3 separate regions of the Homo sapiens genome follow, and all the other regions are linked to region 2. Evidence: fine-mapped expression QTL. A gene starts in region 2. Each other region holds a variant in brackets. All regions are shown on one strand. Distances are from middle to middle.

Region 1 (2,772 bases), 200 kb after region 2:
CCCCTCTGCCTTCCACCATGTGAGGACACAGCAACAAAGCACCATCTTGGAAGCAGAGAGCTAGCCTTCACCAGATACCCAATTTGCTAGTGTCTTGATATTGGACTTCCCAGACTCGAGAACTGTGAGAAACAAATTTCTGTTGTTTATAAAGAACCCAGTCTGTGGTATTTTCTTCTAGCAGTAGGAATGAACTGAGACAACAGTCATAGGTCATAGAGGACTTTGGAAATTAGCATAAACTACCCGCAATCTCACTCTGACTCTCTTTTCTAGAGGTAATCCATCTAGGTAAGAAGGGACATAGATCAATGGTTCTTAAGCTTGGCTGCACATTCAAAACATCAGAAGCTTTGAAAAACCCATGCCTGCATTGCAGCCTACACCAGTTATGAGTATTTCTAAAATGTGTCCAGGTGATGCCAATGTGCAGTCAATTTTAAGAATCAGTAGCATAGATAAATCAGATATGTTTGCCGTTGGGAATAGAAGAAACAGTTATAGCGTTAAATGATCAAAATATCCTCTGAGAAACTATAAATTATGAAATATAATAATCATAACTAGCATATATTTTAAGAGTTATACATATTAACTTATTTAATCTTAATAATAACCTTACACTTATCCTCCTTTAGCAATTGAGGCAAGAGAGATGCAGAAAGGTTAAGTTGGCCAAAGTGAAGGTGACAAAACAGGGACTGACTCAATCTCAGGTACTCTGCTCCAGACTTGTGCTCTTTGCTATTACCCACCACTACCTTGCAAATATTAGTTGATGTGGGTGAATGCATGCTTTTCCTGCAATTGACTCACAACTTGAAGAAAACTGGCATTTGCAATCATTGCTAATTTCCTATCAGTGATCTATGCAGGCATGAAAGGAGATTGCTAACCAAAAGGCCAGGACATAACTCACCACTCCTCAATCATTTAAACAAAAATAGAATCCTGGAAAATATCTCAAACTAGAAAAAAATCTGAATGATGAGAAAATTTTTTTGTGTTAAGCCCAGAGGACAAAAAATGAGCAGGCTCTGGTTGGTGACAAGGAACTATCTTC[T/A]CGATTCATGGTAATAGCCTGGCATGGCCTAGCTTCTTCATTAATGGAGCCATATGGTGTCATCAATGATGAATTTATGTGGGGAAAAACATACTCACAGTTTTGAAAATGTTTTAAATCAATTGTTGCATGCTGTCGTTCATGAATAGAGTGTGTGATGCAAAGGAAAATACTGCATTTGCTTTAAGTGCCTATTAAATTTTGGAATCTTTAAAATATGATATCCACTAAATCCACTTAATATTCAGCATGTTAATTAAGTTTGGCACTTTTTCTGTTTCATTTATCATTTTACACATAATTAAATTTGGAGTCTGGTCATAGCCATTGGGTACAGAATCATTTACAGATGTCTCTATGACAAGTTTTTAATTCAACTTGCCAGTATGAGGGTCTGATTTGGGGGAAGAAAACAAAACAAAATAAAAAAAAAAAAGGAACAGTTGAAGAACAACTACAGTGTGATAGCATTGTAGACTTCAAACATCAATCTGACTGAGATTCCGAATTAACATGATCTTAGTTTTACTTGAGTTTTCTATACAGCAATGATTGATTCTACAATATGGATTTGTCTTACACTTAATTGTGAGCCATTTGTGTTGCTGGGTGGTAAAAATTTGCTAAGTAATTCCCATCCTGTAAAAGAAAAACTCACAAACATACAGCTTGGTATATATCCTATCTAATGATTTAGTCTCAAACTCAGAAAAAAAAACCAACAACATTTTTTAAGTTTTGAGATGGCACTTGGTGCTTATTTACATTATGGGTTTTTGTAATTTACACTTTGAAACGTTCTTTAAGTGCCTTAGAATCCTTGGTTGACTATTTTGTTTTGTCCTTATAAAAGAGAGCCTCTGAAGAAATTGATTGGTTTACTTTAAAAATGTATCATTTCTTCAGTGTACATTAGGCAGACATAGAAATCTATTCTTGGCAATCACATCACAAGAATTCCTATGAAAACATCTATACTGGAGAAAAAGCTGGCCTATTATTTCCTGTTAACTGTAAAATTATTGGTTGCAGAATAAAGAATAGCACTGGTAATCTTTTCCTTAATCAAGCTCTTAACTTCACCTGCTGTTTATTTGCTGAGAAGCAGAAATCTAAGTTACTGCTTTTGTTCCAAACTCAGTGAAACAGTGTCTTTAAAGTATCAAATATAAAGAAAAAAATATAAAATTTCTCCCCAAATAATAGGAATCCAAGAAGGTACAATATGTACAAAGTAAATTCATTTTCCCAATTAATTTATCTGCAATCATTTGTTAAACCTAACATATTTTCTCTTAAATAGGAGCAAATAATAATGGACGCAGGCCATCTACTTATTTTCATTAGCCATTAATTTATCAATAAATTCACAGAACTTTATACATTAATAAAATGATTCTTTTTAAATTTAACTTTTAAAATTGACAAATAATAATTGTACATACTCATGTGGTACCTAGTGATGTTTCAATGCATATAATGTATAGTATTCAGATCAGGGTAATTAACATACCCATGTAAAACAGTTATTTGTTTGTGTTGAGAATGTTCAATATCCTCTTTCCAGCTATGTGAAATTATGTATTATTGTTAACTACAGTCATCTGACAATGGCATAGAGCAGGCGTCCCCAACCCCCAGGCCACAGACAGGTAGTGGTCCATGTCCTGTTAGGAACTGGGCTGCACAGCAGGAGGTGAGTGGCAGTT
Region 2 (2,772 bases):
GGGAGGCTGAGGCAGGTGGATCACCTGAGGTCAGGAGTTCGAGACCAGCCTGGCAAACATGGTGAAACCCCATTTCTACAAAAAAATTAGCTGGGCGTGGTGGCAGGCAACTGTAATCCCAGCTACTTATGGGGCTCAGGCAGCAGAATTGCTTGAACCCGGGAGACGGAGGTTGCAGTGAGCCAAGATCGTGCCACTGCACTCCAGCCTGGGCTACAAGAGCAAGACTCCTTCTCAAAAAAAAAAAAAAATAAAAAAAAAATAAATATATATATATATATATATATATATATATATATGATTTTGATAGATACAGCAATTTCCTTCTTCTTGCCCTCAAATAGTAACAAGTCAGGTAGAAAAAATGGGTCTGAAATTTGGTAGTACAAGAGAAATTTTCATTTTTAATTCTTCCTATAAACATTTCCCTCTGGTATAAATTAATTTTGAGTTGTTATATTGACAAAATAAATGATTTAACATATATTGCTGGATAACTTTAGTTCTATATAAAATTTATTTTAAAATAAAAACAGCAGGCATAATAAAAAGTAAAAAAAATTAAAAGTAACGTGGGATGAATGGTTTACAGACATGAGCTCTTTCCTGGATGTTCTCCTTCTGAAATTCTATGATTTTGTGAGCTAAGCTCTTTTGGGATTTCCTAAAATAGGACAGATTTCAACCATTTTAAAGTAAATGGAACAAAAAAAGCTTTTACACCAAGCTTCTTTTCATTCCTATTTAATTCCATATTTTTAGTAAGTTTTGATATCTATAGAAAAGAAAGTAACCTTTGTTTAAATACAAACCCATTTTCTTGGAATAATATATTACATATACAATGTAGGACTAAATTTGCAGATCCAGTGCCAAATACTCTACGTAGGCAGTTTAACGAGGACTTCCTGTTACCGACTAGCTCCAATGAAAATGATCTTCCTTTAATCTAAAGAATAGGCGTCTAACAGGCAGAACCAGATTCTCCAGGTGTGAAGTAAGCAATCTATTTTCACTTGCTATTAACAGCAAACGTACAACTTTATCTCTTATTTGACTTCATTATTTGGCTTTCAAATTAACAACATGAAAACTATACAGAAATTAGTCTGTGCCCTATAAGACAGAGATTTAGATAATTTGTTCAAAACATGAGATGATATTCAGATATTCTCTCAAAGGCAGGACTCCAACACCGCAGGTGGAAAACCAACAAAAGGAAGAAAACAGAAAGGTAAATAATGACTCTTTTCTGTACTTTTTAATATGAGGTATCCATAGACTGACATCTGGTTACACTGTTACATTTAAAAATCACTCAACAAATAATGAGGGTTACTTGTTTTGCTCAGATTTGGACCGGGGTACCAGTAGCTGATTTGTTCACATATATTACTGACATGCTGACTGGGATCTGGGTATAAAGCTCTTGAAAATAGACTACGATAATAAAAATCAACTTTAGAGGAAAGAAAAAATTTTTAAGTCTTTTAAAAAGTAAGCTCTCATTTAAAAAATACTAGAAAGTCAGATGTAAAAACAGATCTAAAATTATTTCTTTTATAGACAGACTATGAATGTGCTTACTTTAGAGAACATTTTTATATTTCACTCTGAAAAGCAGCTTATACCCAAATTTGACACATACGTATAACCTTAAAAATCTGAAATAATTTGCTATAATGGTCTTAATTGCTTCATTGTTGTTTACTAGAATCTTCTAAAATTGAAAAAATGAGAAAATAATCTTGTGAAAGGGCTACCAGAAAATATCGAAGTACTCACTAACCTTTATAATATTTCAACTAGTACATTAAAAATACTTGTTATACCATTTAACGTAAGTGTTAGCATTTAATTGATAGTTTGAAAAATTTAAATCAGCATCATTTAAATACAACATATGTAGATAGGTTAGATACTTTCAAAGTTATAATTGTTACTATGTTAGAATTTAATAAATATTCCATTTCAAATCAAAATAATAATGACTTTTATATGTATTTTAAAGGTGGACTTGAGAATTGGCCACGTAATACCTCGAACACATTATCTTCACAGCTATGCAGTTTTAAATGTAATATAAAAATCATTTTATGTATGTACAGCTTACTTGAATCAGATAAAAGTTCAAAAATTATACATCATATTTAAACAAAAATGATCTTAATGTTGTTATACAAGTTAATTCAATAAGTTATTTAGACTAAATAAAATGTAGAAAAAAGCATTGAAAGTTTACATTGCAAAAAAAGTCAGATACTTCAAAATTAGACAATATATGCAATTTGCAATTTTTTTTTAGTTTTTAGAAACTACTATTTGGCCCTCACTTTAGTAGCCAAAGAGGTTAATATATTACAATAAGATCCTCTGCTTTCACTTGCACTAGAAAAATGTGGCAAGTTGACTTCATATACAAAAGCAACAGAATATTCTGTTTTCTCTTGGGTAAAAACTGGTCATATTTCTTGAAATGTTTTATTTAATCATTACAGTAACTATGAAAAGAAATGGCCTACTTTAAAAAAATCTATAAATACACTAAGTATCTATCCCAGGGCATATTTCTAAAAGTACAAGGTAATTTTTACTCATGTTTCTGTTTCTAGGGATTTTCAGTGTCTGTAATAGGGCAGAGAACCTTTTATTTGAGTCGCACCAGTTTACTTTTCTATTTCCCAGAACAAGTTGTCCAAGTTGATTATCATACATACGAGTTAGTGTTCTTTCTTTTTTAAATATCATGTTTAAGCTCACAGATACAGTTCT
Region 3 (2,772 bases), 80 kb before region 2:
TCCTGTGCAGGTCCATGGTGGAATCCACCAACTTTTCTGCAGATCGCTCACATCATCAAACCGGATGTGCAGAGAAGAGACGTGTTTCATCTTTTGTCTTCGTGGATTCTAGTGTGTCTTTTACTCCCCGCTAACCTCACGTGCTAACTGCCAGCCCTGCTCACTTAAAGCCTACCACCAGAAGCAGTGACGCAATAAAACAGACTACTTAAACAGCTCCCTTAATTAAATAATATCTAATTCCAATAATAAATCTCTTATATCATTTGTGGAGATTTTACTCTGACCAAACTCCGATACATAGCTAGCAATACTTCTGCCCCTTCAAAGCAAGATAGACACTCTTGTGTAATTAACTACCAAATCAAGGAATTAAAATTATTTGCCTCTTCTTTCTAGATGCTCAGAAAGTTCTAATGCTTACACAAATTGCCACAAAAATCATAAAATTTCCTTTTAACTAGGTGAATGAGCTTGTAGTCACTTAGAAAAAAAGTGAATAAAAATGGTCTCTTCACCTAGACCCACTTCAGAGCTCAGTCTTTGAAACTTTCATTGATTCTCCATGGAATTTCTCCCTATTCTGTTTTTCCCAAGGAATAAATTTTTAGCTGCTTGAAAACAGGGTTTGTGTTGCATTCATTTTGTATTTTTTACATACAGCACAACCGGAAACTATATTTTTATAACATATTTATTAAATAAATGAATGGGCTGGGTGCAGTGGCTCACGCCAGTAATCCCAGCACTTTGGGAGGCCGAGTTGGGTGAATCACCTGAGGTCAGGAGTTCGAGACCAGCCTGACCAACATGGTGAAACCCCGTCTCTACTAAATACAAAAAATTAGCCAGGTGTTGTGGTGGGTGCCTATAATCTCAGCTACTTGGGAGGCTGAGGCAGGAGAATTGATGGAACCCGGGAGGCCTCCGCCTTAGTGAGCAGCAAGCTGAGATTGTGCCATTGCACTCCAGCCTGGGCAACAGAGCAAGACTGTGTCTCAAAAAAATAAAATAAAAAGGCCAGGCGCGGTGGCTCACACCTGTAATCCCAGCACTTTGGGAAGCTGAGGTGGGTGGATCACAAGGTCAAGAGATCAAGACCATCCTGGCCCAAATGGTGAAACCCCCATCTCTACTAAAAGTACAAAAACAGCTGGGCATGGTGGCGTG[C/T]GCCTGTAGTCCCAGCTACTCGGGAGGCTGAGGCAGGAGAATCACTTGAACCTGAAAGGCGGAGGTTGCAGTGAGCCAAGATCGTGCCACTGCACTCCAGCCTGGCAACAGAGCAAGACTCCGTCTCAAAATAAAATAAAACAAACAAACAAAAAACAAATAAATGCTACCTTTATTAAGAGGCAGGTCAGGAAGAGAATTTTCAGTGTAAAACAAAGAAAATATATTTAATTGAAACTAACAAAAATTCTGAATAGAGTTCTGCACATGTATCACAGAACTTAAAGTATAATAATAAAAAAAAGTAAACGTGGTGAAATGTAAAACAGTTGATGAATCTCTATAAAGAGCACACAGGAGCTCCTTGTACTATTCTTACATTTTTTTCTAAGTTTAAAATTATATCAAAATAAAAATTTTATCAAAAAAAATTCTGAGTAGAGAATAGTTGAAGCAACCTCTAACTTTTATGTTATAGAACAAATGGAAATGATAGAGGCCAGAGGCTTTATCTGAAAAAAAAAAAAAAAAAGGAAAAAAAAAAGCTTTTGCTAACAAGTAATTTATAAAAATGAGAATGGTTTTTCTTCCTGCCAACTGGGTCGTAAATAATAAATTCCTACAGAAAGTAAAATAGCCTGTTAATGAGGGCAGCTACTTAGCAATTGTGGTCTCATTTCTGATTGAGTAGAACAGTTTGGTAACCTTTTTAAAGTAAACTTGACTTTACGGAACATGGCCACTGTTTTAAAATTGAGATATGGTGTCCCCAAAATACCATTAAGACATTTAAAAATGTCAGTTGTCCCTTACACTGCCTTTCTAGTAACAAAAGGGAAACCTAACAGAGTTTGGGAGAGTGGGGCAGGAGACAGTAGACTGTCTGATTTAAAGAAAATTAATCTAGTAAAAAAAAAATTAGCCGGGCATGGTGGCTCACACCTATAATCCCAGCACTTTCAGAGGCCAAGGCAAGAGGATTACTTGAGTACAGGAGTTTGAGACCAGCCTGGGTAACATAGAGAGACCCCTGTTTCTACAAAAAATAAAAAATTAGCCAGGTGTGGTGGCACATGCTGTGGTCCCAGCTACTCAGAAAGCTGAGACAAGAGGATCACTTGGGCCCAGGAGGTCAAGGCGGCATGATCACACCACTGCACTCCTGGACGACAGAGTGAGACTCCACCTCAAAACAAACAACAACAACAAAAACAAAACAACAACAACAAAACATATATATGCCTAATTTGATACAGCAATAGAAATATTTTAATTAGGCCAGGCACAGTGATTCATGCCCGTAATCCCAGAACTTTGGGAGGCCAAGGCAGGCGGATCGCTTGAGCCCAGGAGTTTGAGACCAGCCTGAGCAACATGGCAAAACCTCATTTCTACAAAAAATACAATTAGCTGGTGTATACCTATTGTTCAAACTACTTGGGAGGCTGAGGTGGGAGGACTGCTTGAGCGTGGGAGGTGGCGGTTGCAGTGAGCTGAGATTGTGCCAGTGCACCTGTCTCAAGAAAAAAAAAAAAGTTTTAATTGCTACAATATAATTTAACAAATGGTAAAACCACATCTTTAACCATTTCTTTTCTTCCC

Alleles and levels. Alleles are on the strand shown, and positions count from the first base shown. SD is a standard deviation of normalised expression in the study named. Not every link is listed here.
For the expression in fetal neocortex of the gene that starts at base 1,004 in region 2, allele A in region 1 goes with a higher level than allele T (moderate effect, 0.72 SD a copy in Walker 2019).

Evidence for each region. PIP is the estimated chance that this variant, and not a neighbour inherited with it, causes the effect.
Region 1: its variant is the best candidate, but not a certain one, in a credible set for the expression of STX19 in fetal neocortex (Walker 2019, PIP 0.52).
Region 3: its variant is the best candidate, but not a certain one, in a credible set for the expression of STX19 in spleen (GTEx, PIP 0.90).

The regions. Positions count from the first base shown.
Region 1 is chr3:93,822,454-93,825,225 of GRCh38, reverse strand. No RefSeq gene overlaps it. Among named protein-coding and RNA genes, the nearest start is that of PROS1, 150 kb to the left of the region's middle. The variant T/A (reference allele first, on the strand shown) is at 1,064.
Region 2 is chr3:94,026,829-94,029,600 of GRCh38, reverse strand. STX19 (syntaxin 19) reads left to right here and starts at 1,004. Exons shown (of 2, transcript NM_001001850.3): 1 at 1,004-1,234. All of the region lies in intron 3 of ARL13B (ARF like GTPase 13B), which reads right to left.
Region 3 is chr3:94,106,905-94,109,676 of GRCh38, reverse strand. The region is part of intron 5 of NSUN3 (NOP2/Sun RNA methyltransferase 3); the gene reads right to left. Among named protein-coding and RNA genes, the nearest start is that of NSUN3, 45 kb to the right of the region's middle. The variant C/T (reference allele first, on the strand shown) is at 1,171.